Regions from separate parts of the Homo sapiens genome. Here all the other regions are linked to region 1. The links come from fine-mapping of genetic effects on gene expression. A gene starts in region 1. Each other region holds a variant in brackets. All regions are shown on one strand. Distances are between the middles of the regions.

What was found.
Region 2: its variant is fine-mapped to the expression of MTUS1 in whole blood (TOPMed, PIP 0.98).
Region 3: its variant is fine-mapped to the expression of MTUS1 in whole blood (TOPMed, PIP above 0.99).
Region 4: its variant is fine-mapped to the expression of MTUS1 in spinal cord (GTEx, PIP above 0.99). The same link has a PIP of 0.9 or more in hippocampus, putamen and substantia nigra.
Region 5: its variant is fine-mapped to the expression of MTUS1 in anterior cingulate cortex (GTEx, PIP 0.93).
Region 6: its variant is fine-mapped to the expression of MTUS1 in fibroblasts (GTEx, PIP above 0.99).
Region 7: its variant is fine-mapped to the expression of MTUS1 in whole blood (INTERVAL, PIP 0.98).

The regions. Positions count from the first base shown.
Region 1 is chr8:17,798,647-17,802,714 of GRCh38, reverse strand. It overlaps MTUS1 (microtubule associated scaffold protein 1), which reads left to right and starts at 1,621. Exons shown (of 15, transcript NM_001363059.2): 1 at 1,621-1,654. MTUS1-DT (MTUS1 divergent transcript) reads right to left here and starts at 1,373. Exons shown (of 3, transcript NR_186403.1): 1 at 973-1,373. RefSeq lists silencers at 1,018-1,207, 1,248-1,307, 1,388-1,507.
Region 2 is chr8:17,700,851-17,704,918 of GRCh38, reverse strand. The region is part of intron 6 of MTUS1 (microtubule associated scaffold protein 1); the gene reads left to right. Among named protein-coding and RNA genes, the nearest start is that of MIR548V, 21 kb to the right of the region's middle. The variant G/A (reference allele first, on the strand shown) is at 2,025.
Region 3 is chr8:17,695,453-17,699,520 of GRCh38, reverse strand. The region is part of intron 6 of MTUS1 (microtubule associated scaffold protein 1); the gene reads left to right. Among named protein-coding and RNA genes, the nearest start is that of MIR548V, 16 kb to the right of the region's middle. The variant C/G (reference allele first, on the strand shown) is at 2,001.
Region 4 is chr8:17,648,240-17,652,307 of GRCh38, reverse strand. It overlaps MTUS1 (microtubule associated scaffold protein 1), which reads left to right. Exons shown (of 15, transcript NM_001363059.2): 13 at 2,346-2,462. It overlaps LOC124901891 (a long non-coding RNA gene), which reads right to left. Exons shown (of 2, transcript XR_007060834.1): 1 at 3,756-4,068; 2 at 2,351-2,745. Among named protein-coding and RNA genes, the nearest start is that of MIR548V, 31 kb to the left of the region's middle. The variant C/A (reference allele first, on the strand shown) is at 1,902.
Region 5 is chr8:17,638,121-17,642,188 of GRCh38, reverse strand. All of the region lies in intron 5 of PDGFRL (platelet derived growth factor receptor like), which reads right to left. Among named protein-coding and RNA genes, the nearest start is that of MIR548V, 42 kb to the left of the region's middle. The variant TTAAA/A (reference allele first, on the strand shown) is at 1,986.
Region 6 is chr8:17,604,177-17,608,244 of GRCh38, reverse strand. The region is part of intron 2 of PDGFRL (platelet derived growth factor receptor like); the gene reads right to left. It overlaps LOC107986919 (a long non-coding RNA gene), which reads left to right. Exons shown (of 2, transcript XR_001745819.2): 2 at 2,199-2,599. Among named protein-coding and RNA genes, the nearest start is that of PDGFRL, 29 kb to the right of the region's middle. The variant C/G (reference allele first, on the strand shown) is at 1,642.
Region 7 is chr8:17,911,114-17,915,181 of GRCh38, reverse strand. It overlaps LOC124901892 (endogenous retrovirus group K member 25 Env polyprotein-like), which reads left to right. Exons shown (of 1, transcript XM_047422511.1): 1 at 1-4,068. Among named protein-coding and RNA genes, the nearest start is that of PCM1, 9.8 kb to the left of the region's middle. RefSeq lists enhancers at 2,110-2,898, 2,899-3,689. The variant A/G (reference allele first, on the strand shown) is at 2,321.

The DNA of each region.
Region 1 (4,068 bases):
TTAAATACTATATCTATTTAAAATTAATCACATGCCTTTCCTAACAACACGGATCATGCTAGTTGCATCTATCTTTACAACAGGGATTTCTGAAGCAAATGAGAGGTGTCATTATGTAATGGAATTAAAAGAGAAGATTAGGAGTTAGGCTGGCTGGGTTTGCACTTGCCCTCACTGGCTGTGTGACCTTGCGCTAGTCACTTGACCTTTCTGAGCTTCAATTCCTCATTTGAATAATGGAGATAATCTGACCTATATACCCCTGGGTTTTGTAGTCAGGAAATAATGGATCATTGTACATATGAAAAGTCTTTACAACTATCAATGGCAAGACATCTGTCAGTTATTCTAATATTCATGGTATAGAAAACTGTGAAATACAGAGTCCTTACGTCTATTCTCCAAAAAAGTTCACTTCTCTTTAAAAGCTTTTAGCAAACCACAATCCAGGTAATTAAAAAGGAAATATTAAAATTTTGTTCTCAGGTTGTCTGACATTTCACGGTTCAGCAATGTGACATCTCTCACAGGCAGAATAGCATCTTCGGACAAGTTTTCTATTAAAAATATGCTTTATAGAAGAAAATATTTTACGGACCTAGAAGACAGCTGTCGATGAAATTTGCTCAGTTTAGCAAACAGCAAGGACTGTGTTTGTGTTTAGAGAAAAGTAGGTCGAGCCTAGTTTATCTCCCTGGGGTTCTAGACTCCTTTCCACGTTGTATCTCAAGCTCTAATAGCTGGAAAGCTACTTTCTTTAACCTTTAATACACACTTGCTAGTAAACTTGCTAGAAGCATGAAGATAATACAGACTGCGAATCAGCCCTTCTAAGAGACAATCACGACTCCTTCCTTGCAAGCTTCCGCCCTGATAATTCTGCAACCTTCCCACCTTCTATACGCCCCGCGGTGCGAGGCCCCTCGGCCTGCAGGTGGCCAGAGGCAAGCAGGAGTCAGATCCCCCACCTACCGCGGCCCGGCCTGGGCCCTAGCGCTGGGTGCGGCGGAGCCCCGGGCTCCTGCGGGGACGAGCGTGGTCCCGGGACGCGCGGTGCAGCCAGGTGCGCCGGCGGCAGTGGCAGCCGCTGAGCGCCGCGTCGCACGTGGCAACAGGTGCAGCGCTGTCCCGGGCTGGCGCCGGGGGGCGTGGGGCGCGTCCGCACTTAGTCCGGGAGCGCGCGGAGCGTCGGGATTGGGACCCGAGAGCGGGAGCGGAGAGCGGGAGCGCCCGAGCGGAGTCCAGCGCCCCGAGGTACGGCCTCGCACGTCATTCAGGTTCCCCGAGGGCCGTCCCCTGGGACGGCGGCTGGCCTTGGTCTCCCGCAGCGAGCCGCTGGAGTGGAGCCTTCGGAAGGAGCCGCCCCGGGTTGGGGCGGGAGGCCCGAGTTCGGCTATTTACAAGTTTCCCGAACTCCCCGCCCTGCTCCACCCCCTGGCGGCCCCGGAGGCGGGGAGGCGGGGAGGCCGGGGCTCCGGGTCCCGCCTGGTAGCCGCCGCAGGCGTGGGGTGGTGCCGCGCCGCGCGCCCCCAGGTGCAGACGCCGCCCCCGAGACCTCCGGGGCGGGTTCTCGGCGACCCCGCCAGTGGTGCAAAGGGCGCCAGCCCTCCCCGCCTCTGCGTCTTTGCTCCCGGAGCGCTTGAAGGAGCTGCGGGTAAGTGCGCGCTGGAATCTGTTCCCGCTGCCCGGCGGCCGGGGTGGGGAGGGGACAGGCGAGCGCGCCGCCCAGGGTGACGGGACCGGTCCTCGGGGAGGGGAGGGGGCGTTCCAGGGGCCTGGGGGCCGAAGCTGAGGGCTAAAGGGGGCGGCAGCGCCGGCGGAGCGGAGGCGGGTCTCACGTGGGCCAGCGCAGAGCCTGCGGAAGGGACGGATGCGGATCTCGTCGCTGTCACCTTGAAAGTGACCGAGGGGCTTGACTGTGGACTCCTTACGCCGCCCACCCGGGCCCGGCGGTCCCAGCCTTCTCGCAGGGCCCCTTCTCAGCAGAAGCAAGCGGGGCCGAGAAAGCGGGTGGAATAGGGTTGCTGCAGGTCCCAAAGACCCCTCGTGGCGCCTCGCTACTTTCTGCAGCTTGTTTGCACTTTTTCACGCTCTAGAAAAATCTCATCTTAATTAAGGTGACCTTATTGACTACTCTATAGTGCTTAGTGGACTTAGGTGTTCACTGAGGAACGTTTTTGTTCTTTTTTGAAGACGTACTCCTTTCTACCAAGTTGTTTGTTGATTTTTGACTTGGAGTAATTTGGGACTAGGAAGGAAGAGGTTAATTCATTTAGCCTGCGTAGTTACACATACTCTGTTAAATACTGTTTGTTTGAAGTAGTCAGTGTTCTAAGAAAGGAAATCCAGTGTGTTTTGTTTGTTTCAATGAAACCAAAGTCTTAGGCAAAACGGTGCGTGGAAGCTTTCAAGTTTTGCCAGGTGCAGGTGATCGAAAGTCAATCATCACTAAATCACAGCGCTGGGGCTGGAGGGTGGGAGTAGGGGTGTTACCAGTGAATTTCAGGAGGAAGGGAGGCAATGCAGGAGGGAGGGGATTAAAAAAGAGAGTCATTGCTTCCTGGGAACCAGTGACCTCTTTAAGGAGGGTATATACAAGATAACAGTGCATGGACAACTTTAAAAGGAATTGCATAAACGGAATTGCAATTCTGTAGACAGTTTGCTTTTTCAGGGATGGTTAGGGCAGGAAATGATACACAACTTAAAATGGTGATGTCCTGTTAGTACAGTGCTTTACAGTGTAGAAAGTGCTGTTACAGATTTTTTTTTTTTCATAGGCAATATATTCCATTAGGAAAGCTATACAAAGAAAAGATTAGAACTACATGCTTATCCTTAAAACCAAAGCTAAAAAACCTTAGAAGTGGAATTTAGTTTAAAATAATATGTAGTTATTTATGTAACTTGCACCACGTTTTTTCACCTGTTCTTTTTAAAATCAGGTTTATGAAGAGAAAATAATTCTTGGTAAATCTGCTTGGTAGAAAATCATGCTTGGAACAAGACCTTTTAATTATGTCAATAAGTCAAGGTTACATTTTGGAGTATAATAGGATTATAAGATTCTAGATAATATCTTATATTTTTTGGAAACTAACCTGCAGTTATTACACTCAAGCATTTAAAAAGCCTGTTACTTAATAGCCCTGTTCTGTTAACCCTGTTTGTTTTGATTTCAAAAGTAATCCGTGCTTGCTGTATAAAAATAGGTAGATTGAGAAAAGTGAGTTAAGCAATTTCAGCAAAGATAATCACAGTTAATATTTAAGAAAATACTTGTTAATATATAGAAAAATTTTTTATAGTTATATAGTTTATCTAAATATACTATTGCGTGGAGGTTTTTTCCTGATTAATGTATCATGAAAAATTTTCCATGTCATGAAATCTTCAGAAATCTTAGTGGCTACTTAATATTACATTACATAGATGTATCAAACTGGTTTTCATTTATTTCCACTTACTAAATATACTTTTGCAACAAATACGTTTTTAAAACTTTATGTGCAGGGTTAATATCCTTAGTGCCCTTGAAATACAGTTGATGGTTGGAAGATCTCCTCATACATATTGACCATTTGCTTTCCAAAAAATGTTTAACCAAATTATGTTCCCACCAGCTCTCTGTGAGAATACTGGTGTTACCGTATTCTTGTCAACATGTAGAATCATCCTTAAAGGGAAAAAAAAAAAATTCTTCCCAGGTTTATAGGTGAACAGTGCTTTCTCTATATTTAAACTTCAATTTCTTTGATTACAGATGATTTGAACACCAAAGAAATCTAGTTGTTTTCCATTTTGAAATTTGATGTAGTGCCAGATTTTTCTCCTGGGATATTAGTATTTTTCCATTAATTCATAAGAGCCTTTTATGGATTGATAGTAAATCTTTGCCATTCATATTGCAGATACTTTTCCCATTTTATCTTTGCTTTATATATTTACAGTAGTTTTGACATACACAAATTTCTTTAATGTTGATAAATCTGTTGACTTTCTCAAAACAGAATTTTTAACACTTCTAAATCGTAGCTTCAGAACTATATGTGACTGTGGTAGAAGATT
Region 2 (4,068 bases), 98 kb after region 1:
TGTAGAGCTCTGTCAAATCAGCAAGATAAAGACAACTCTATAATAGAAGCTAAATGGACATACCACCCAAAGAGATCTACAGATTCAGTGCAATCCCTATCAAAATCCCAGTGTCATTTTTTTAAAGAAATAGAAAAAACAATCCCAAAAGTCATATAGAATGACAGAGGACTGCAAATAGCCAAAACAATCTTGACAAAGAACAAAGCTGGAGGCATCACAGTTCCTGATTTTAAAGTATATTACAACACACAGTAATTAAAAGAGTATGGTACTGGCACAAATATAGAAACATAGACCGATGGAATAAAATAGTCTAGAAATAAATCCGTGCATATACGGTTAGCTAATCTTCAGCAAGTGTGCCAAGAATACACAATAGGGAAAGGATAGTCTTTTTGTAGATAGTACTGGGAAAACTGGACATCCACAAGCAAAATAATGAAATTGGACCCTTATCTCACACAGTACACAAAAATCAACTCGAGATGGATTAAAGACTTAAATATAAGATCTGAAACTATAAAACACCTCAAACAAAACATGGGGCAAAACTTCATGTCATTTTTCTTGGTATGACACCAAAAGCCCAGGTAACAAAAGCAAAAATAGACAGGTTGGAGTACATCAGATTAAAAATCTGCAGAGCAAAGCAGTCATTTAATAGCATGAAAAGGCAGCCTATGAGATAGGAGAAAACATTTGCAAACCATACGTCTGATAAGGCGTTATTTACCAAAATAATTGAAATCAGGATGTTGAAGAGATACTTGCATTCCCATGGTCTGTCGCCCCCAATATTTCAATGTAGGTTATTTTTGTTTCCTGTAAGTGTTGGCCGGTCTGAGAAATAAAGAGAAAGAGTACAAAGAGAGGAATTTTACAGCTGGGCCTCCAGGGGTGACATCATATTGGTAGGTCCGTGATGTCCACCTAAGCCGCGAAACCAGCAAGATTTTATTAGGGATTTGAAAAGGGGAGAGGGTGTATGAACAGGGAGTACGTCACAAAGATCACATGCCTCAAAGGGAAAAAGGCAGAGCAAAGATTACATGCTTCTGAGGAAACAGGACCAGAGCAAAATCAGAAACTCCTGATAAGGGTCTATGTTCAGCAGTGCACGTATTGTCTTGATAAATATCTTTACAGAAAACAGGATTTGAGAGCAGAGAACCGGTCTGACCTCAAATTTACCAGGGTTGGTGTTTCCCAATCCTAGTAAGCCTGAGGGTACTGCAGGAGACTAGGAGACCAGGGCGTATCTCTCTCAGTCCTTTTTTTTTTTTTTTTGAGACAGAGTCTGGCTCTGTCACCCAGGCTGCGGTGCAGTGGCGCGATCTCGGCTCACTGCAAGCTCTGCCTCCCAGGTTCACGCCATTCTCCTGCCTGGGACTACTAACTGGGACTACAGGTGCGCACCACCACGCTAGGCAAAGTTTTTACATTTCTAGTAGAGACGGGGTTTCACCATGTTAACCAGGATGGTCTCGATCTCCTGACCTCGTGATCTGCCCGCCACAGCCTCCCAAAGTGCTGCGATCACAGGCGTGAGCCACCGCACCCGGCCAAGCTATCTCCACCGCATAGGACAGACACTCCCAGAGCGGCCGTTTATAGACCTACCCCCAGGAATGCAATTCTTTTCCTAGGGTCTTAATATTATATTCCTTGCTAGGAAAAGAATTTAACGATATCTCTCCTACTCGCACGTCCATTTATAGGCTCTCTGCAAGAAGAAAAATATGGCTGTATTCTGCCCGACCGCGCAGGCAGTCAGACCTTATGGTTGTCTTCCCTTGTTCCCTAAAATCACTGTTATTGTGTTCATTTTCAAGGTGCACTGATTTCATATTGTTCAAATAAACATTTTGCAATCAGATTGTTCAGTTAATGCAATCATCACAGGGTCCTGAGGTGACGTACATCCTCAGCTTACAAAGATAACAGGATTAAGAGATTAAAGTAGGACAGGCGTAAGAAATTATAAGAGTATTTTTAGAGAAGTGATAAATGTCCATGAAATC[G/A]TCACAATTTATGTTTCCTCTGCCGTGGCTCCAGCCGGTCCCTCCATTCGGGGTCCCTGACTCCCTGCAACAATGGTCATTGCCACATTATGATAGCCAGGATGTGGGAACAACCTAAATGTGTCCATAGGATAAAGCAAATATGGCATATATGTGCACTGGAGTATTATGCAGCCTTTAAAAAGAAGAAAGTCCTGCCATATGCTGTGATACAGATAAAGCTGGAGGACACTATGCTAAGTGAAATAAACCAGTCATGGGGCAAATACTGTATGATTCCACTTATAGGAGGCATCTAACATAGTCAAAGTCAGAAACAGAGTAGAGTGGTGGTTGCCAGGGAATGGGAACTTGATGTTCAATGGTACAAGGTTTGTTATGCAAGGGCGAAAAGGTTTTCGAGATGTTTGTTACAGCATTGTGCCTACAGTTAACAATATTATATTGTTCTTTTAAAATTTTGTTGAGAAGGTAGATCTCATTAAGTGTTCTTGCCACAATTAAAAAAACTAAACAAAAAGAAAGGGAAAAATAAGTGGATGGACAGAAAAGAAATATATGAAGGACTAAGGAATATATGAAAAATGTTTACCAAATATGAGTTAAAATAATGTGCTCTCAGTTCTTGCTTATTTCTTAATGTTAGCACCTGGTACTGGCGAAGAATAAGAAACAGCACTCATATGTACAGCTCCTTGGTAAATTACAGCAGCTGTAGCAGAGAGCAAACACCTTCCACCCGGGAATTCTGTTTTTCAGAATTGGTCCTAGGAAAGTAATTTATTTACTTATTGACTGCTTTTCAGAATTGTTTACAATGGGGGAAAATTGGAAACAACCTATATACCTTACAGGAATTAAGTTCGTTGACATTTTAAAGACATTTTTGAAGCCATTAAAATAACAATATAAATGCTTATTTAATCCCATGGAAAGATAAGTGTGAAATTTTTAAGTTTAATAAGTTTATTAAGCTTATGTTAAGTTTAAAAACAAATTGGAGAGCAGTCTGATGTGTAAGTAATTTAAATTGAAAAGAAAATTCTGGCCGGGTGCGGTGGCTCACGCTTGTAATCCCAGCACTTTGGGAGGCCAAAGCAGGTGGATCACAAGGTCAGGAGATTGAGACCATCCTGGCTAACACGGTGAAACCCTGTCTCTACTAAAAATACAAAAAAAATTAGTCAGGCGTGGTGGCGGGCGCCTGTAGTCCCAGCTACTCAGGAGGCTGAGGCAGGAGAATCACTTGAACCCGAGAGGTGGAGCTTGCAGTGAGCCGAGATCACGCCACTGCACTCCAGCCTTGGCGACAGACCGAGGTTCCGTCTCAAAAAAAAAATTCTACGATGAACATATGAGGTTTTGTTTTTTAAAAACAAACATTGTACATGAATTAAAAGCATTACTGCTTTTAATTTAAACTCTTATTTTGCTTATTGCAAAATAAAAGGCAATGTCACTGTTCTTTGAGAGCTTATCATCTTACAGGTGGGTGGAAGTTGATTGTTTTTCTAATTGCTTTGTGTTAATTTTTTGATAATTACAATTTATCTTCGTACTGAGGAAGAGGATAGTGTGGAAAAATTGGGCCTTAAGTTGAAGTTTCTACAACTGGAATAGAGAATTGAACTTACTACATTAAAGACTGTGAGGAGTAAAATGAAGAAAATGTTGCAATTAATGCTGTGTTAGGGAAAGTAAGGAGATAAATATAAAGATTAATATTCCATATTAGGCTAAGGAAGATTGGTTGGATAGAGATGCTTGAATCTCCACACAAGTCACTTGGTTTAAATTTTAATCTTCTTCCTCATTCTTTATGATCATTAACAACAACAAACAATAACAGATAAATTGAAGGCATTTTGTAGCATCTAAGCACCCCATACAGATTATGCTAGATTCTTGTCTAGAATCATGACATCATTGTTTTCTAAATCACTGATTTAAAAAAACACATTTCTATGCAGACCAGTGGAATTTCTGTTTGTTTGAATATACTGTGATATTACAACATACTGACTTATGAAACATTCTGTATCAT
Region 3 (4,068 bases), 100 kb after region 1:
AATTTAAGGCTGGGCGTGGTGGCTCACCCCTGTAATCCCAGCACTTGGGAGGCCGAGGTGTGTGGATCACCTGAGGTCAGGAGTTCGAGACGAGCCTGGCCAACATGGTGAAAACTCATCTCTACTAAAAATACAAAAATTAGCCAGGCATGGTGGCGGGCACCTGTAATCCCATCTACGGAGGCTGAGGCAGGAGAATCACTTGAACCCGGGAGGCAGAGATTGCAGTGAGCAGAGACTGCGCCATTACACTCCAGCCTGGGCAACAAGAGTGAAACTCCATCTCAAAAAACAAACAAAAACAAACAAAAAAGGATAATTTAGAATTTGCTGTTACTGAAGAAACAACAAACACAACCAAAAGAAAGAAAAACCACCTCCTACTATATGGAGTGGTGGCATGTCTGTTTTTAATCATGGCAAAATTTGACTCTGTTCTTCTGTTTGTTTTTAATGCTGATTGGTTTCTTGGTTTTTACAAGGTTTTGGGAGGTAGAGGAAAAGGTTCTGGTATATTTTTAGTATGTAGAATCTGGAAGGAAAAGGTGTTCAGGTTTTTTAATAATAAACTGGGATGAAGTAAAAGGCAACACCTAGAAGCAGCTGGCCTTGATTTTAATTCCTTGATCATTTAGCTTCAGTTGCTGTGGTGCAATGTATGTAGCAGGTTTTTCGTCAGTGTATGAACTAGGTGTATCTTTCTCACAGGAACCCTGGACAGGTTATTGGGTCTGTCTCTCTTGCTGACAACCTCTAAAATGGCAAGTTGGGGGCTTGAGTGAAGAGGGAGGGGGCTTGAGGGAAGAGAACTTATTTAAATTTTCTCTTCCTCCCTCTCTCTTCCCTGCTTCATACCCTACTCTATAGAATTTCTAAAAGAACTGCTTCCTGCTAGTTTTAATAGCACTTAATAGTGTTATTTATGGTAACAATTCTGCATTTATTTCTGAGTCTTATTTTCTAGGAAATCTTGGAAACAGGCATAGGACATTTTTAAAACATTGTTTTGTTTATAACATTTTTAAAAATGTTAAGAGCTCAGGCTATTCGTGGTTTAATGGAATTAGCTTAAGTGGGCATATTGTTGTTGTTAATTCTTATAACCATATCTTTGTTTTTCAAGTTCTTTTGGTTTTGCTATCATGTTTTAACATACTTTTACAAGCCACTCTACTGAAATAAAAATTAGTAGATAACTGGCAAAAGATATTCATAACTGTGCCCTCCTCACACTCCTAGTCTTGAAAGACCACTATAAGAGACCACATGATGTTCTATAAATGCAATTACTCATGCAATAAATGTAGTCTTTAGAATATGCCTATCTGATGGACTATTCTTCTGGAACTCTGATATTACATCTGATAGAGAAACCGTATTAATCTTTTACTGTTGATTATTTGTGAGGTCCTCAGCATGTGGGAATTAAAGTTGAACTTTAACCTTTTGACAATCTGTCATTAATATATTAGAATAGAAATTTTCTTAAATATTGTAGTTGAGAACATTTATTGCCTGAAGTCTTTAAAAAAAAAACTTTTCCAAAATACCAGGTTTAAATGTAGTTTACATGTAAAATATCTAGAGAAAAAATGCTCATGTTATCATTGTGAATATAAGGAGTGAAAAATGTTAAAATCAGGACACAGTTTACTTTCAGGAAATCCTAATTTTTTTCTAATTATGAAAGAAACATTAGGCACTTGAAGTAGTTAATTTCCCCTAGCGATCTTTCAAGTGGTTACAGGATCTGTGACATTATTGGTTGTTCTGTAAAGCTCCTGAGACCACCCACTTTCTCCTCCCCTTTACCATCTCGGATGAAAACCATAACAACTCCACAAGCATGCACAGTGTGATGTGGTTCAGAGGCAGCTTCTAGACCTGCAGGAGGGAGATTGTATTCAGAGGAAGAGCATCATTTTGGCAACATCTGAAAGTGAAAACGGAAGCCAGAAACACTTGGCCAGCCCTGGGGGATTTTTTTCTTCTATGCCTCT[C/G]TGGTGGAATGACATTTGCTGTGTAGGCATCTTTCCTCTGACTGTATTTCTTGGCCTTGAAGAGTACTGAGTTTAAAAAGACAGTATGTGACAGTCCATGGAAATTGCCTCTTCTGTGAAATCTCGCCACCTGCTCCGAAGACATGTTGTTGTCTCCCAAATTCTCCTTATCCACCATTCACATACGACTGACGGCCAAAGGATTGCTTCGAAACCTTCGACTTCCTTCAGGGTTTAGGAGAAGCACTGTTGTTTTCCACACAGGTCTGTCTCGCATAGATCTCTGTTTAGTGTTGCACGGGGGATGTCTTCATTAATTTGCAGATGTTTATCAGAGGTTTTTCCAAGGAGACAGATAATTGGAGGAAAAAAGCTCTCTCTAATGAGAGATGAGGCTTAATTTAAAAATTGTTTTCTGTTGCTTCAGCACAAGTGCATAGTACTTTTACTTTTGGCAGCAGATTGTGTTGTTTGTGTTGATGGAAGGCAGAATTGTTGCCTTGGTGTTCCCTAGCTCTTTTCTCCATCACCAGCCAAATGTGTGAAAATCAGCACCTGTTAAATTATATTTTAGTTCCAGTGTTTGGGAAATAGGACACAGGTAAATTTAGAAGAATATTTCCTGTTCGCCTGTGTAGATGAGAAGGTTCCCATCGTTTTTCATTGGATAGTTTCTCAGTCAGATTTGACAGTTAATTTTAATATGCTAAAAGATTTCTGTATACTAAACACTTCTGACAGAAAACATCCTAATGGTTATGGGGAAGTAGTAAGTGAATCACAAATCTAGTTTTCCAATCTTCATAATAAAAGTGTGTGCAGTCTCAAAATACTTCCCCTGAGGTTTATGTTTGTATCTGCTTATTATTTTCGGTGCCTAAGATGAAAATAAATTTAGTATATATTTTAGGCACGTGGTGACCTGTCTGCTCACTTTTAGGGCATTGGGTTGGCCTATGTTGCTACTTTTGTCCTAGATGATTTTACAGCTACAGTAAATTAAATCAGTTTTATTCTGTAAAATATGTTAGCTGGGGTGTTTTTATATTTGTTTTGGGCTGAATAGCGTTAGGTGTCACAGGAATGTTTGATGAGGATGTAAATAGATTTTTGTTTCTGCTTCATGTGCACGTGACCCCTCGTGTTTCTTATTTTCCACGTGGCTCATCTCTGTCCCTGGTGATTTGTTTTCAGCTGACTATTTTTAGTTTTCCCAGAGGCATCTCCCTTCTCTGTGGGAGAATTCTCATTTTTTCCAGCACCTCTCTCTCGTGTTTCATAACTCCCCTTGACCTGTCATTTGATTTTGCCAGCCTCTCCCTTTCAGTCTGAGCTGACGGTAAATGGGGGGAGGCAGCGAGGAGGAGGTCAGCAGTGGCCCTCCTCTCCCAGCTCAGGGCCGCTGCAGCCCTTCCAACTGAACAAATTAATAGGGGGGAAAAATAACAAAGGGTGCCCTATATTTGCAATAATTTGTCTGATCTAAAGTAGCTCCAAATAGCTTTTAATTTTAAAGAGTTCTTTTAAAAATACTGTAATCCACGCTCCAAGTTAAAAATCAAACAGTATGGAAGGTTGTGCAGTCCTAGGCAAGCCTCTCTCTTACCCAGAGTCCCTGTCTGCTCTCCGTGGAGACAGCCGCTCTCAGCTGCTTGCATAGTGTTCTTGCACGTTTCCAGTCACATGTAAATCTATGCAGGTCTTTTTTATTCTTTTTTGTTATACAGAAATAAAAGCGTACTATATATTCTATACCTTTTTAAAGTTAATGTGTTTTAGATTTGCATGTGATCACATGTTTATCTACCTCATTAAAAAAAATAGTTCTGTAACATTCCATTATTGGGTAAGTCATGATTTACTTAACCAGTGCTCTAGTAGTAGACATTCTAAGTTGTCTGTAGTGTTGTTGTGAAGCAGATAGCTTTCCAAGACAGCGTAAGCAAACGACACAAGGCTTCTATTACCAGGGTTTAGTTGATAGTGATGTATTGGACACATTTTATTTTCTAAACTTACGTAAAACTATTTTCTGTTTATTTGCAGTCATAATTTTTTGAGCTAGAGT
Region 4 (4,068 bases), 150 kb after region 1:
TGGATGAATAATATTTCGCCGTATGGATAAATGTCAATTCTGAAAAGTACAAATCTCTTGGAAGCTGAAATTTCTTGTGGCACATTTGTCCTTTTTCCCCAGCCTTACCCCAACCTTTGTCTTTTTGAAAAAAATTTGTTTCCTTGCTGCTTCTGCCTTTAGTACCACTGTTTTCATTTCATGTTTATACTCTGAGACTGCAGAAGCAAAGCTTTTCTCCACTTCAAATCTCTGGCCAGCTCTAGAAAGTACATGTGTGGATCTCTCAGTGAGACCTTCTGCAAATAATGTCATTGGGAGACCCTCTAGCTATTTGATAACATTAGATGAGCTTATATTCAAAGAAACTTCAAAGCTATTTATTCTAGAAGATTCTTAGGAAGAGTCAGTGATTTCAAAAGAAATCTAGACTTACATGCAGGGATATGCAGGGTATAAACTTTATTGATGGCTCAGGAAACAGGTTTGAAAGAGCTTCCGGTACACAAAGGGGATTCTTCTACTGCAGCCGCTTTTGAAAAGCTAAGGCAGAGTCAGAGTGAGGAACACAGAAGCATCCAACCGCTTCTGTCACGTAAGCATGCTGAGGCTGCGGAAAAAGAGTGCGTCTGACTGTAGTCCGGGAGAAAGGGATGGGCTGGCAGAGGAGGAGGAGAAAATGCAGAGGGTACAAGTCTTGTAAATGCTCTAATTTTAAAACTGACGGTAAGTTATGCCATTTCCCTCTAACAAAAATGAGGTAGGATTCGCTATTTTCAAGGTAAAAAAAAAAAAAAAAATCCTGCGTACAAGGGTAACACTGTATAAAATGTATGAAATTTAAAAATTGATACTTAGTATTTGCATGTACTTATGGGGTACGTGTGATGTGTTGAGACAATCATAGACTGTGTAATGCCCAAGTCAGGGTATTTAGGGTATCCGTCATCATTATCATTTCTTTGTGTTTGGAACATTTTATATCTTCTCTTGTAGCTATTTTGAAGTACGCAATATATTATTATTAACTATAGTCACCCTACTATGTTCTTGAACACTAGAACCTATTCCTTCTGTCTAACTGTATGTTTGTATGCATTAACCAACCTCTCCTCATCCCACCCCACCCCACCTCCCACCATACACACGCATACCTCTCCTAGCCTCAGGGAACTATCTAAAGAACCTAGAATTAAAGATGTATTAGTCCCTGCCCTGACCCTTTCCAGCTCTGGAAGCTTTCCTGATCTTTCCTGAGTAGGGCGCTTAACCCGTGGAACACGTTTCCTCTTTCTGTGTGAAGTAAGGGGTTTGGATTAAGTAATCCCCGAGGCCCCTTCCTGGATTCTCCCTAAGGATTGGTCCAGAGCAGAAACCAATGCCCCGGAAGATAAGCTTGATGACCACACCACCGACTCTTACCTAAGACGTTGCTTCATTAAACATATCTGATCAGTGGACCATATGCTGTTCTTCTGTAGCATAAATTTTGAATGGTTTAGTTGAATTTCCGAATAAAGCAAGGAGTGGGTGGGCGGTGGTGGGAAATCCACACTGATGGTGTGCTCTCAGAGGACGCCTCCCCTGATGTAGCATTTATTTTGGAGAGTTTTGTGTTTTTGAGACAGGATCTTGTTCTGCCACCAGGTTAGAATGCAGTGGTGCATTCACAGTTCACTGCAGCCTTGACCTCCTGGCTCAGTTGATCCTCCCGCCTCAGCCTCCTGAGTAGCTGGGACTGTAGGCATATGCCACTATGCCTGGCAAACTTGTAATTTTTGGAGAGAAATTTAAATAGGCTGTGTACTCCATGCCGTGTAGGTACTGGGGTGTCACAATAGAAAATGATAGTATTATGTCTGCCCTAGAAGTATGGCCCAGTCAACGTAGCCCCATCATAACAAAAATCCAAACACTCAGGA[C/A]ATTGTTATCCCTGTTGTTTTCCAGAGAGCCGTATAATGCACTGCTTTTTCTTTCCTGATCAGTTTGTTTGGTAGGAGAGAACTGTTGTTCCCTGTTCTCCCAGAAAATGCCAATAACTGACTCACAGATTGCCTCATCTCCAGCCAAGATTCTGTTTTGTATGTAAGCAAAGTTTTTCTCTTGATACAATAACATGTTTGATGCAACTCACATTTTTGCATATTAAGTTACTGATAAATAAGTGAAATGTTTGCTTTCAGTATTAGGACCAGTCTTCGACATTAAGGTGCTCTTGTTTTTCACCTCTTTCTTTGAAATTGCTCTAAGATGATGAACATCTGTCGCTTGCTACTTGTCTAATGTCTCAATCTAATCAAAGATTCTTTCTGTTAAGAATTTGAACTATGTGGAATAAGAGCAGTATCTTGCTGTGTCCTTTCCAGAAAAATCCTCAGATCATGTATCTAGAACAGGAGTTAGAAAGCCTGAAAGCTGTGTTAGAGATCAAGAATGAGAAACTGCATCAACAGGACATCAAGTTAATGAAAATGGAGAAACTGGTATGTTTCCTTCAGAATGAAAGAGGATCTTACAAATGGGGTAATATGTGTGAAATTGAGCCCTGCATTTTAGAACTGTGGAGTTGGGTTAACTGCTCCTAAAGATATTTAGAAATTATACAAAAGATAAAGTTCACATTTTCTTTCCAAGTTTGTTCCATATTTATTCATTGCTGCCTCCTAGAATGTTTTCTTTTTCAAGGAACATGTAAAACAGCACCCAGTCCTTGGAAAAACTACAAACAAATCAGGCTTATATTTCAGTGGTATTTTGGATCTTCACCTGCATAAGAAAAATGTTTAAATATCTATGTAAAATCAGTACTTTAATATACCAGCCACCCTGGACAGGTTTCTTAGATCCAAAACAGTTGGATACGTTTAATAGAAATGAATAGAAATGAATTTAATAGAAATGAATAGCAATACTATTTATCAAAATTCTTCATCTTGCTTCTTGTGAATTAGCATGTGATAAAAGAATCGTGGGCTGGGCGCAGTGGCTCATTCCTCTAATGCCAGCAGTTTAGGGAGGTTGAGATGGGTGGGTCACTTGAGGTCAGGAGTTCGAGACCAGCCTGGCCAACATGGTGAAACCCTGTCTCTACTAAAAATATAAAACTTAGCCGGGTGTGGTGGTGGGTGCCTGTAATCCCAAGTACTGGGAAGGTGGAGGTTCCATTGAGGTGAGATGGCACCAGTGCATTCCAGCCTGGGCGACATAGCAAGACTCCATCTCAAAAAAAAAATTGTGCTATAATAAGATTAATCCATTTGGACAAGTAGCAGGTGTTACCAAAAATATGAATTAACATTCACTTTGCAGTGTCTAGAACAGAGAACGATGTTAGTGTGAGTGGCATGTTCAGTGTTCAGCGTCAGTCTTGGCCCGGCCCTGAAATACAGCTGCTGCCAGCCAGGACTCTAACCAAGTTGGCAGAGTTTGGCAAGGCAGCTTAAGTGATCCCCGCCCTCGCGGTGCCTTGCTGTTGACTGTCCAGCTGCCGCATGCTACTGGCCTCTTCTCCCCACAGTGATGAGTGACTCAGGCTTCTACAAGTGCCTCATTCAAACCCAAACCAGCCCTGGACAGTAGGGGACATGGGGGACCTCTCTGCTGCTTGGTTTGTGTTGGTTTGGCGTTTGGTTTTCTTCTGGAGACTATGACTTCTGTTGAGGGAGATAACGGCCAAGCCCCTGTGTGGATATACCAGCATTTTGAATTATCAGGAAATTTTTGTAAAGGAAGGAAAGGAACTCATGGTTGTTAATGGGCCAACCTAGTATACATACCAGTTCCTGCCAAAGGTCGTCCTGTTCGACTGAGTCTGGTATCTTCTAATCTGGTAGTCAGGGATGACTCAGATGATCCTGTTAATAGGACTGCTCCATATGCCATTCATGCATCAAAACTTTCAAAAAATCATGTGCAATAAATCAGACTTTGCTGTAAACTTACCAACACATTTAATTTCTGATGATCTACTATTTGTTTCTTGCCATGCCCCAGAGGTATCCTGATAATATCCTTCAGCCTTGCATTGTGTATGTGTGCAAGAATGAGTTGATACAATGAGAGGGAGACCCACTGTTCCCTTCATATTTG
Region 5 (4,068 bases), 160 kb after region 1:
CCACTGTATAAATGACTAAGAGCTCCCAATTGCTCAGATTTGAGAGAGGGAGAAGTATGATTAGGCCAGTGTGCCTTAGGACTCTAGTGGGAGAAAAGTTGTACCAAGGATGGGTAAGATAATGTACTACATGACAGGACCCCTATTTCTACAAAGTGCGATGGTCACTTTTGAGATGTCCACCCAACTCCAGTGATAAGAACATAGTATTTTCTGAATTCATGTAACAGAACTAATATATCACTAAGTGAATACCTTTTCTCATAAAATACCAAATAGCAATGTGGCGGGGACCTCTATTGAAAATCATCAATGTCCTGTAAGTATGACCAACACGTTTGATAATCAAGTGCCTGGTACCAGGATGCCGGAAAACACTATTCCCCAGAGACAGTTATTTTCTACCAATCACAGCCCATAGGCCAGAAGGATGTCAGCTACTTAATGTGTCTTGTGGAGGCCAAATCTCTTCTGGCAACAAAGGGATTATTCCGTGCTGGGAGCAGAGCTGTTATTTTAGCAAGCAGAACATGCACAAGGGCTAAATACGCTGCAATTGCTTTTATGAGAAGTCTACTTTAAAATTATCTCTGGCCTCACAGCACCTTTTTGGCGTGGTCTATGTCCACTTGGTGGATGTCTGCTCACAGCAGCTTGCCATGGGCACAGCTTGTATAGAGAACACTCTAGCCAAGTGAAACACAGGAATAGAAAGGAGCAGCAGAAAGAGCCCTATGGGCTCTCTCAGTCCCCAAGGAAGCCATTTCTGACTTTGTCTCACAGAGATCCCTGGAGAGGGCTACCAGAGAAACTGGGAAAAGACCACAGGGAGAAGGAAACTTCTAGCTGAACTTTGTAACAATTTTGACCAAACACAGTTTCCTGGACAGAACTCGGGTGAGGGGGTGAAGCAGGAGTGCAGACACAGCACAGAAACCGTGGCAGGTAGGAGATGTGAAATCTGAAAACCCTGTTTGCTTTCTTATCCAAGAGGCTGGTAGCCTGGGACAAGTTCTCAACCCTGCTCATCCACTGCCTAGAAACAAACTCGGTGCTGTTGGCAGGGACAGAGGGAGTGAGACCGGCCCTTTGGGCTACGTGGGAGCTGGGTGAGGCCTGTAACTGCTGGCTTTCCCCCACTTCCCTGGTGACCTGCATGACACAGCAGAGCAGCCATAATCCCCTGAGGAACATAACCCCATTGGCCTGAGAACCACACCGCCAGTCCCAACAGCAGCCATAGCAAGACCCGCCCAAGGAGAGTGTCTGAGCTCAGACACGCCTAGCCCACCCCCAACTAATGGTCTTTTTCTACCCACCCTGGTAGCCGAAGACAAAGGACATAATCTCTTGGGAGCTCTAGGGTCCTGCCCACCACCTGATCCTCCCTATACTACTGCAGCTAATGCTGTCTTTAAAGTGCCACCTCCTGGCAGAAGACCAACACAAAACTAGTGCAATAAACGAAACTACAACTAAGGACCCTCACAGAGTTCATCCATTTCACTCCCCTGCCACCTCCATTAGAGCAGCTGCTGGCATCCATGGCTGAGAGACCTGAGACATCAAAGGACTCTGTACAGGCACCACTAAGTACCAGCCCAGAGCCCAGTAACTCTGCTGGGTGGCTAGATACAGAAGAGAAATAACAATCACTGCAGTTTGGCTCTCAGGAAGCCACACACATAGGGGAAGGGGGAGAGCACTGTATCAAGAGAGCACCCCATGGGACAAAAGAATATGAAGAGCAGCCCTTGAGCCCCAGATCTTCCCTCTACCATAGTCTACCCAAATAAGAAGGAACCAGTAAAACAATTCTGGTAGTATTTCAAAACAAGTTTCTTTAACACCCCAGAAGATCACACTAGCTCACCAGCAATTTATCCAATCCAAAAAGAAATCCCTGAATTGCCAGAAAAAGAATTCAGAAGGTCAGTTATTAAGCTACTCAAGGAGGCATCAGAGAAAGGTGAACTCCAACTTAA[TTAAA/A]TCAAAAAAGATACAGGATATGAAGGGAAAAATCTTCAGTGAAATAGATAGCAAAAATAGAAAACAATCATAATTTCTGGAAATGAAGAACACACTTAGAGAAATGCAAAATACATTGGAAAGTCTTAGCAATAGAACTGAACAACCAGAAGAAAGAACTTCAGAACTCGAACATCAGATTTTTGGATTAACCCAATCGAACAAAGACAAACAAAAAAGAATTTAAAAGAATGAACAAAGCCTCCAAGATGTTTGGGATTATATTAAACAAACAAACCTAAGAATAATTGGTGTTCCTGAGGAAGAGGAGAAATCTAAAAGTTTGAAAGACATATTTGAGGGAGTAATCAAAGAAAACTTCCCTGGCCTTGCTAGAGAGCTACACATCTGAATACAAGAAGCTCAAAGAACACCTGAGAAATTCATTGCAAAAAGATCGTCACCTAGGCACAGAGTCATCAGGTTATCTAAAGCGAAGATGAAGGAAAGAATCTTAAGAGCTGTGAGGCAAAAGCACCAGATAACTTATAAAGGAAAACATGTCAGATTAACAGCAGATTCCTCAGCAGAAACCCTACAAGCTAGAAGAAATTGAGGCCCTACCTTCAGCCTCCTTAAACAAAAGAATCATCATCTAAGAATTTTGTGTACAGCAAAACTAAGCTTCATAAATGAAGGAGAGATACAGTCTTTTTCAGACAAACAAATGCTGAGAAAATTCGCCACTACAAACCCAGCACTGTAAGAAATGCTAAAAGGAGCACTAAATATTGAAACAAATCCTTGAAATACACCAAAATAGAACCTTCTTAAAGCATAAATCTCATAGGACCTATAAAACAAAAACACAATAAATAAATAAATAAATAAAAACCAAGGTATTCGGGCAACAAATAGCAAGATGAATAGAATAGTACCTCACATCTGAATACTAATGTTGAATGTAAATGGCCTAAATGCTCCATTTAAAAGATTCAGAATGGCAGAATGGGTAAGAAGTCACCAACCAAGTATCTGCTGTTTTGAAGAGACTCACCTAACAAATAGGACTAACATAAACTTATGGTAAAGGGCTGGGAAAAGATATTCCATGCAAAGGGACACCAAAGTGAGCAGGAGTAGCTATTCTTTTTGTTTGTTTTGTTTTGTTTGAGACAGAGTCTCACTCTGTCGGCCAGACTGGAGTGCAATGGCTCAATCTTGGCTCAATGCAACCTCCACCTCCCAGGTTCAAGTGATTCTTGTGCCTCAGCCTCCTTAGTAGCTGGGATTACAGGTGCAGGCCTGTCTTATAGAGGAGTAGCTGTTCTTATATCAGACAGAACAAACGTTAAAGAAACAGCAGTTAAAAAAGAGAAAGACGGACATTATGTAATGATAAAAGGACTTGCCCAACAGGAAAATATCACAATTATATATATATATATATATATATATATATATATATATATATATATATATGCACCTAATGCCAGAGCTCCCAAATTTATAAAACAATTACTGTTACACCTAAGAAATGAGATAGACTGCAACACAGTAATAGTGGGGAACTTCAATACTCCACTGTCAGCAATAGATAGGTAATCAAGACAGAACATCAACAAAGAAACAATGGATTTAAACTATAACCTAGAACAAATGGACTTAAGGGCTATTTGTAGAACATTCGACCCAACAACTGCAGAATATACATTCTATTCATCAGCACATGGAACATTCTCCAAGAGAGACCATATCATAAGCCACAAAACAAGTTTCAATAAATTTAAGAAAACTGAAATTATATCAAGTACTCTCTCAGACCACGGTGGAATAAAATTGGAACTCAATTCCAAAAGCAACCCTCAAAACATACAAACACATGGAAATTAAATAACCTGCTCCTGAATGATCACTGGGTCAAGAATGAAATCACGATGGAAGTTAAAAAATTATTTGAACTGAATGAAAATAGTAGCACAACCTATCAAAACCTCTGGTATACAGCAAAGGCAGTGCTAAGAGGAAAGTTCATAGCATTAAATGACTACATCAAAAAGTCTGAAAGAGCACAAATAGACAATCTAAGGTCACACCTCA
Region 6 (4,068 bases), 190 kb after region 1:
GCAGTGGGATGGAGAGAGAGGAGTGCTTTGGACAGTAGGATGTGGTCTGAAAGGCAGAGACCAGGGGCAAATCAGGATGAACTCCCAAAGGCAATCCAAGCAAAGTCTTTGAGCAGGAAGGCACCAAGCGAGGCAGGAGACAGGCCCCTGAGGCCCCAGGACAGAGTGGACAAGTTGGGAATGCAGGACGGGAAGTGACAAGAGAAGGTTCTGGGCGGACTCCCCAGGGCAGCAACTTAGCAGCTGCCCACCTGCAGCCGGCTGTGTGGGTGGGACGGAGCCGCCAAGGCAGCCAAGCCCGGACACTGGAGGCAAACCTCTGACATCTTCGTTTTGCTTTTTTATAAATGTGCCATTCTACACAATTATACACTAGTGGACATAAAATTTCCCATTTTACATCTTATCCTTTATTCCTCTTTTCTTGCTCCCTCCTTTGACATATCTTTCAAAGCTGTTTTATTTACATCTTCTATATTCAAATACTTGGCCAAAAATCATGCTACTAACACACCAGTGTTTACATTTGAGCATTAAATCCCAGACGTCACCCACATGTATACTTACTTGTTAAAGCAACATTTCACTCATAAAATACATGCAATCACTGGTACTATAAACAATGCTCCATCTTGCAAGATGCCCCAAAATTATCATCTAACATAGTTGGTGATATTCCTACAGTGTCTTTGGTTTAACGCACTAGCTTGACTGTATTGTCATTTTCTTACTGTATTTTAATTCTGTGCAACACATCTGGGATAATCAATCCTAGACTTACCAGAAATGCTCAAGAAATGAAATGTTTTGTTGAAAGAAACTTTTTTTGTTGTTTTTTTAAATACATATTTGGTGTAGGTAGAAACATTATTTTTAAGTAAGAGTTAGCAGAAGACGTTTTCCCCAAAACTATAGAACGTGCTTCAACCAATTTCCCCTACTCTAATGACTAGATCGACGAGCAATGGGTGATCTAGAGAACCTTGGGACCATTAGTATGAGCATCAGTGAGCCCTCCACAGTGCTATGGACACAAAGAGTTTGTAGGGGATTGAGACACACGTCTAAAACGTTTCTTAAAACGAAACTCGCAGGCCAAGGCAGGTGGATCACTTGAGGTCAGGAGTTTGAGACCAGCCTGGCCAACATGAGGAAACCCCATTTCCAATCAAAATACAAAAATTAGCAGGGCATGGTGGCATGCACCTGTAATCCCAGCTACTCAGGAGCCTGAGGCAGGAGAATTGCTTGAACCTGGGAGGTGGAGGTTGCAGTGAGCCCAGATTGCACCACTGCACTCCAGCCTGGGTGACAGAGCAAGACTCCGTCTCAAAAAAAAAAAAAAAAAAACAAAAAAACAAAAAACGAAAAACTGGCTGTTTCTTATGATTTACCTCCTTTGGGTACAGTATGGTGAACAGAAATAGCTCACCGATATTTAGGTGGCTTACTATGTGTGCCAAGAGGTTTACACGCATGACCTCATTCTATCCTGAGAACAGCACAATGAGCCTCGTTCTATTATTACCTGCCCCCCACCCTTGTCCTGAACGGAACATAGCTGTGTTTTTCTGCAAGCTGAACGCTCTCAGAACATTGAGTACACTGGGGGAAGTCTTGTATCCTGCAGCCTCCACCCAC[C/G]CATCTCTGGGGAAATACGGAGGGCCTGCAGCTGGTGCCAGTGAGTCTGGAAAGAGAACGCTCTACCTTCAGCATTGGTTAGGTCACCTATTTGTCATTTCTGGGGTGGAAGACCATTTGAAGGCAAGTATTAGAGTTTGGGGGTGGCGTTTCCTTTTGACTGGCCACTGCAAATTAGACCCCAATTGGACCCATGCTCCAGATAAGAATGAAGGCAAAGTGAGAGCCTCCTCATCTTCATTTGTTCTGCTCAGAAAATAAAATAAAACGAGCTTTGGAGGAAAGTGAGTTCGCATACAAAAGACACTCACATAATGATATGAATGCACTTAAGTGTACTGAACTATCTCCTTAAAAATGGTTAATATGGTAAATTGTACGTTCTGTGTATTTTCGAAAAATATAAATTATTTGAAAAAAAATACCTTACTCAGCATAACACCAGAGTACTCTCCACAACATTTACCAAAGTCTGTGCAGATTCTTTCTCAATGGTGGGATTCTTCTGTTGATAACCACTTAAGATATTTCTCCTTTTCTTTTAAAATGTCTTCCAGACTCTCCCTCCAGATGCTGGATGACATGATGAGCCTGGCTGGGAGCCCACTCTCTGCTCCATCGGCCCACCCTCCCTTTGTGTTGTCTGTGGGTGGAGTAAGCTGTTGCCAACCGTGGCCAAATGAAAAGCCCGATGCCCTCCCTTCTCTCTAAAAGCTATTTATTGTTTTCCGAGGAGCCAGCCATCAAAGAGATCTCCTGTGCCCCACGCACTCCTCCCAACTCCCAGTTTTTGACTGAAAAAATGCTAACATCCGACCAGATACCAGAAAAACATCCTGAAAGACAATGCCTGGACTCTTATTTCCTAGGGAGCAGGACCAGGGCTTATTACCACATCAGCCTATCTTGTTTTTACTGCTGTGATGTTGCTGACAACATAGCTGAAATCTCCAACGTCTCCTTGTTCCTACCAGCATTGATTGGTTATATTTAAGCCTTCGTCCAGACCCACTTATTCTCCGTTTCATCTCATTTTCTTCCCTGGCTCAGCGCGGTGCCAAGAATTCTCTGGCTTTACACCCTGGAAGTGTGTTATGATGAGATTCAAGAAACAAAATGTGTGCAGAGAAGATGCAAATGGGTCACGTTGATCTCCCAGCAGGGGTTATTCAGATAATCCAGAATATTCTTACACAAAGTTTTTAATATTATCAACAAAATGCAAGAAAAAATTTAAAAAATTATTGCAAAAAAGCATGAGGTCCAAGAACACATCTAAAGACCCCAGTTGGAGTGAAATGGGTATGGGGCATGGGGAGGAAGGATGGAGGCAACTGACACAGGAAGAGACATTGTCTTTCTTCTGAAGGCAATGAGGACGGCTAACCCTCACAATGCGGTTTATATTACTCAGCATCTTCTTTCAGTCTCTCTCCCTCCTTCCTTCCCTCTCCCTGTCTCTCTCTCTCCCTTCTTTCATTCTTTCTGGGACAGAGTCTCACTCTGTTGCCCAAGCTGGAGCGCAGTGGCATGATCTCAGCTCACTGCAGCCTCCACCTCCCAGAGTCAAGCAATCCTCCCACCTCAGCCTCCCAGGTAGCTACGACTATAGGCACACGCCACCATGCTCTGCTAATTTGTGTATCTTTTTTCGTAGAGATGGGGTCTTGCCATGTTGCCCAAGCTGGTCTCAAACTCCTGAGCTCAAGTGATTCACCCGCCTCAGCCTCCCAAAGGGCTGGAATTACAGGCGTGAGCCACCATGCCCAGCCATGCATTTTCTTTGTATACATATTTAGAAAGGCTTTAAATCCTCGACTCATAATTGCCCTAAATTTTGCTCTAAATTTTTTTTAAATTTTATTATTATTATACTTTAAGTTTTAGAGTACATGTGCATGACGTGCAGGTTTGTTACATATGTATACATGTGCCATGCTGGTATGCTGCACCCATTAACTCGTCATTTAGCATTAGGTATATCTCCTAATGCTATCCCTCTCCCATCCCCCCACCCCACAACAGTCCCCGGTATGTGAAGTTCCCCTTCCTGTGTCCATGCATTCTCGTTGTTCAATTCCTACCTATGAGTGAGAACATGCAGTGTTTGGTTTTTTGTCCTTACGACAGTTTGCTGAGAATGATGGTTTCCAGCTTCATCCATGTCCCTACAAAGGACATGAACTCATCATTTTTCATGGCTGCATAGTATTCCATGGTGTATATGTGCCACATTTTCTTAATCCAGTCTATCGCTGTTGGATATTTAGGTTGGTTCCAAGTCTTTGCTATTGTGAATAGTGCCGCTATAAACATACGTGTGCATGTGTCTTTATAGCAGCATGATTTATAACTCTTTGGGTATATACCCAGTAATGGGATGGCTGGGTCAAATGGTATTTCTAGTTCTAGATCCCTGAGGAATCG
Region 7 (4,068 bases), 110 kb before region 1:
AGGAATCTTTGGCTCCTCATTGGGATCATCCGGAGTGGCCACCTCCAATAAGGCAACGTAACCTGGAGCCTTGGAGGTTTGAATCTCCAATTTGCCCTGTTTCACGAATGGATAAATTAGGGGCTCAGGAATCAAGAACACGTTTTGCAGCACCAGTACAGCATAGGGCTGCACTGCCACCTAATGTCAATGAATCACCATTTCAAATGGTTATTCGGCAGGCTAGGTTAGCTGGAGATCCCGATGCCTGGCAGTTTCCAGTAGTTTTGGAACTCCCACAGCAGCAGGGTGGTGCCCATCAGGCGGTATGGGAACCATTTTCTTTTAAGCTGCTTAAAGATCTCAAAGCAGCTGTTGGTCAGTAAGGTCCCAATTCGCCTTCTGTCCAGTCACTATTACACTCAGTAACTCAGGACAAGCGATTGGCCCCGGACGATTGGGAGATTTTAGCAAAAGCTACTCTTTCGCCCTCCCAATTTCTTCAATTTAAAAGTTGGTGGACCGATGAGGCTCAAAATCAAGATCAAAAAAACCGTGCTGCTAATCCTGTTGTTGCCATTTCACTTGAACAACTGTTGGGAGTTGGGGGCCAATGAGGAACTGTACAACAATTAGTGCTTCAGGATGATGCCGTTGAGCAAATTCGCAATTGTTGCTTGAGGGCATGGGAAAAAATTCAGGACCCGGGAACTACTTATCCCTCTTTTAATTCTGTCAGACAAGGCTCAAAAGAACCGTATCCTGATTTTATTGCTCCTCTTCAAGATGCAGCTCAGAAGGCTCTCACTGATGAAAGTGCCAGGAAGGTGATTATAGAATTCTTGGCTTATGAAAATGCCAACCCTGACTGTCAATCACCTATTCGCTCTGTGAAAGGAAAGGTTCTGGTGGGAGTTGATGTAATCAATGAGTATATCAGGGCATGTGATAGATTGGTGGAATCATGCATAAGGCTATGATAATGGCTCAAAACATGGCAGGATCAAAGGTGGGAGATCCAGTGAAAAACTTTTCAGGCAATTGTTATAACTGTGGGCAATTTGGAAATACAAAAAAGGAATATAAGAACAAATCAAACAAACAATCCAGATCTAATCAAACAAAGGAGCCACCTGGCTTATGTCCCAGGTGCCAGAAGGGTAAATGTTGGGCTAAACGGTGTCACTCCAAATTTGATGAAAATGGCCAACCCTTGCAGGCGCAATTGGGAAATGGGAAGAGGGGCCAGCCTCAGGCCCCACTCCAAACTGGGGCATTCCCTCTCCAGCAGTTTGTCCGTCAGTGGGCACCAGTGCCCTTAATCCCTCAAGTGACCACCACAGTAACATAATTGGCGCCAGTTACAACAGGGGGCGCTGCTTTAGATTTATGTTGCACCAGAGCTGTGTCTCTGCTTCCAGGGGAACCACCTCAAAAGGTGCCCTCTGGAGTATTTGGCCCTTTACCTGAGGTAACAGTTGGACTTGTTTTAGGGAGATTTAGTCTAAATTTAAAAGGAGTTCAAATTTATACTGGAGTGATAGATTCCGATTTTGTGGGAGAAATTCAATTGGTTATTAGTTCTAGTATTCCTTGGAGTGCAAGCCAGGCAGAGAGAATTGCTCAATTGTTGTTATTACCTTATTACCTAATTGTTGTTATTACCTAAGTAGGAGAAAGTACAGTAAAAAGAGAAGGTGGTTTCGGCAGCACTGATAGCAAAGGAAAAGCAACTTATTGGGTAAGTCAAGTTTCTGAAAATAGACCTGTGTGCACAATAACGATTCAGGGAAAACTCTTTGAAGGACTTGTCGATACAGGCGCTAATATTTCTGTTACAGCCCTGGATCAGTGGCCAAAAACATGGCCCAAACAGAGAGCTTCTATGGGTTTAATTGGAATAGGCATGGCATCTGAAGTTTATCAGAGTGTTACAATTTTACACTGTTTAGTACCAGATGGACAGGAAGGCACCATCCAACCTATAATTACTGCCATTCCCATTAATTTGTGGGGAAAAGATTTGTTACAACAGTGGGGTACGGAAATCACCATTCCCTCTATGATTTACAGTTCAGAGAGTCAAAGCATGATGACTAAGTTGGGGTATACTCCTGGAAAAACATTAGGAAAGAATGAGGATGGAATAACTCAGCCAATTGAAGCTTCAGTTAAACTTGACCGAAAAGGAATTGGGTACTCTTTTTAGGGGCGGCCACTGTTGAGCCTCCAAAGCCCATCCCATTGAAATGGAAAACTCAAAAACCTGTGTGGGTTGATCAGTAGCCGCCTCCTCAGCAAAAACTGGAGGCATTACATTGACTAGCAAAAGAGCAATTAG[A/G]CAAAGGACATATTGAACCTTCTTTCTCACCGTGGAATTCCCCGGTTTTTGTAATTCAGAAAAAATCCGGTAGATGGCGCATGTTGACCAACCTACGAGCGGTTAATGCAGTCATTCAACCGATGTGGGCTCTCCAACCGGGGTTGCCATCCCCAGTCATGATTCCAAGAGAATGGCCGGTGGTAATAATTGATTTGGGTCGGGCGCGGTGGCTCACGCCTATAATCCCAGCATTTTGGGAGGCCGAGGCGGGAGGATCACGAGGTCAGGAGATCAAGACCATCCTGGCTAACACGGGGAAACCCCATCTCTCCTAAAAATACAAAAAATTAGCCGGGTGTGGTAGCGGGTGCCTGTAGTCCCAGCTACTCCGGAGGCTGAGGCAGGAGAATGGCGTGAACCCGGCAGGCGGAGCTTGCAGTGAGCGAGATCGCGCCACTGCATTCCAGCCTGGGCGACAGAGTGACACTCCATCTCAAAAAAAAAAATTTGATTCGAAAGATGGTTTTTTCACCATTCCTTTGGATCCCCAGGACTTTGAAAAATTTGCATTTACAATATCTGCTATAAATAATAAGGAACCAGCTACTAGGTATCAGTGGAAAGTTTTACCCCAAGGAATGTTAAATAGTCCTACAATTCGTCAAACTTTCGTTGGGAAGGTCATTCAGCCCGTCCAGGATCAGTTTCCTGATTGTTAATATTATTCATTATGTTGATGACATTTTATGTGCTGCTACAAGTAGGGATAGACTTATCAAATGTTTTTCTATGTTACAAGAAATGGTGGGGCTTACAGTTCTCGCTATAGCGCCAAATAAAATTCAAACTACTACACCCTATCATTACCTAGGAATGAAGGTGGAGGAGAGAACAGTTATGCCTCAAAAGGTAGAAATTCGTAAGAAGTCCTTAAAAACTTTAAATGATTTTCAAAAATTATTAGGAGACGTTAATTGGATAAGGCCCACCTTAGGAATTGCCACTTATGCGAGGTCTGACTTGTTTGCTTTGCTGAGAGGGGATCCAAATTTACATAGCAAAAGAACTCTGACGCCTGCAACAGCTTCAGCTGTTAAGAATAATTGAGGAAAAAATTCAAAGTGCTCAAGTCAGTAGAATAGATCCTAGTGTTCCCTTACAGCTCTTGGTGTTCCTACTCTCCATTCTCTTACAGGAGTGATTATTCAAGATGTTGACTTGGTTGAATGGTCTTTTTTACCCCACAGTACAACTAGGACTTTTTCAATTTACTTAGATCAAATAGCTATTCTTATAGGCCAAGCCCAATTAAGAATAGTTAGATTCACTGGCACAGATCCAGATAAAATTGTAGTTCCTTTAAACAAAGCACAGGTTCAACAAGCCTTTATACATTTATCAGAATGGCAGTCTAATTTAGCTGGTTTTGTTGGCCATATAGATAATCATTACCCTAAAACAAAAATTTTTCAGTTCCTAAAATTGGCTACCTGGATTTTACCTAAAATAACCAGTTCTATCCTCTTGGAGGGGGCTGTAACTGTCTTTACTGATGGCTCTCAGAATGGAAAAGCAGCTTATACAGGACCAGAAGAAAAGGTTATTCAAACCCAGTTTCATTCTCCACAAAGAGCTAAGCTACAAGCAGTTATATTTGTATTGGAAGATTTTGATCAACCTGTTTATATTGTCTCTGACTCTGCCTATGTGGTTCAGGCGACAACAATGGTAAAAACAGCTTTAATAAAATATATTTCTGATGATCA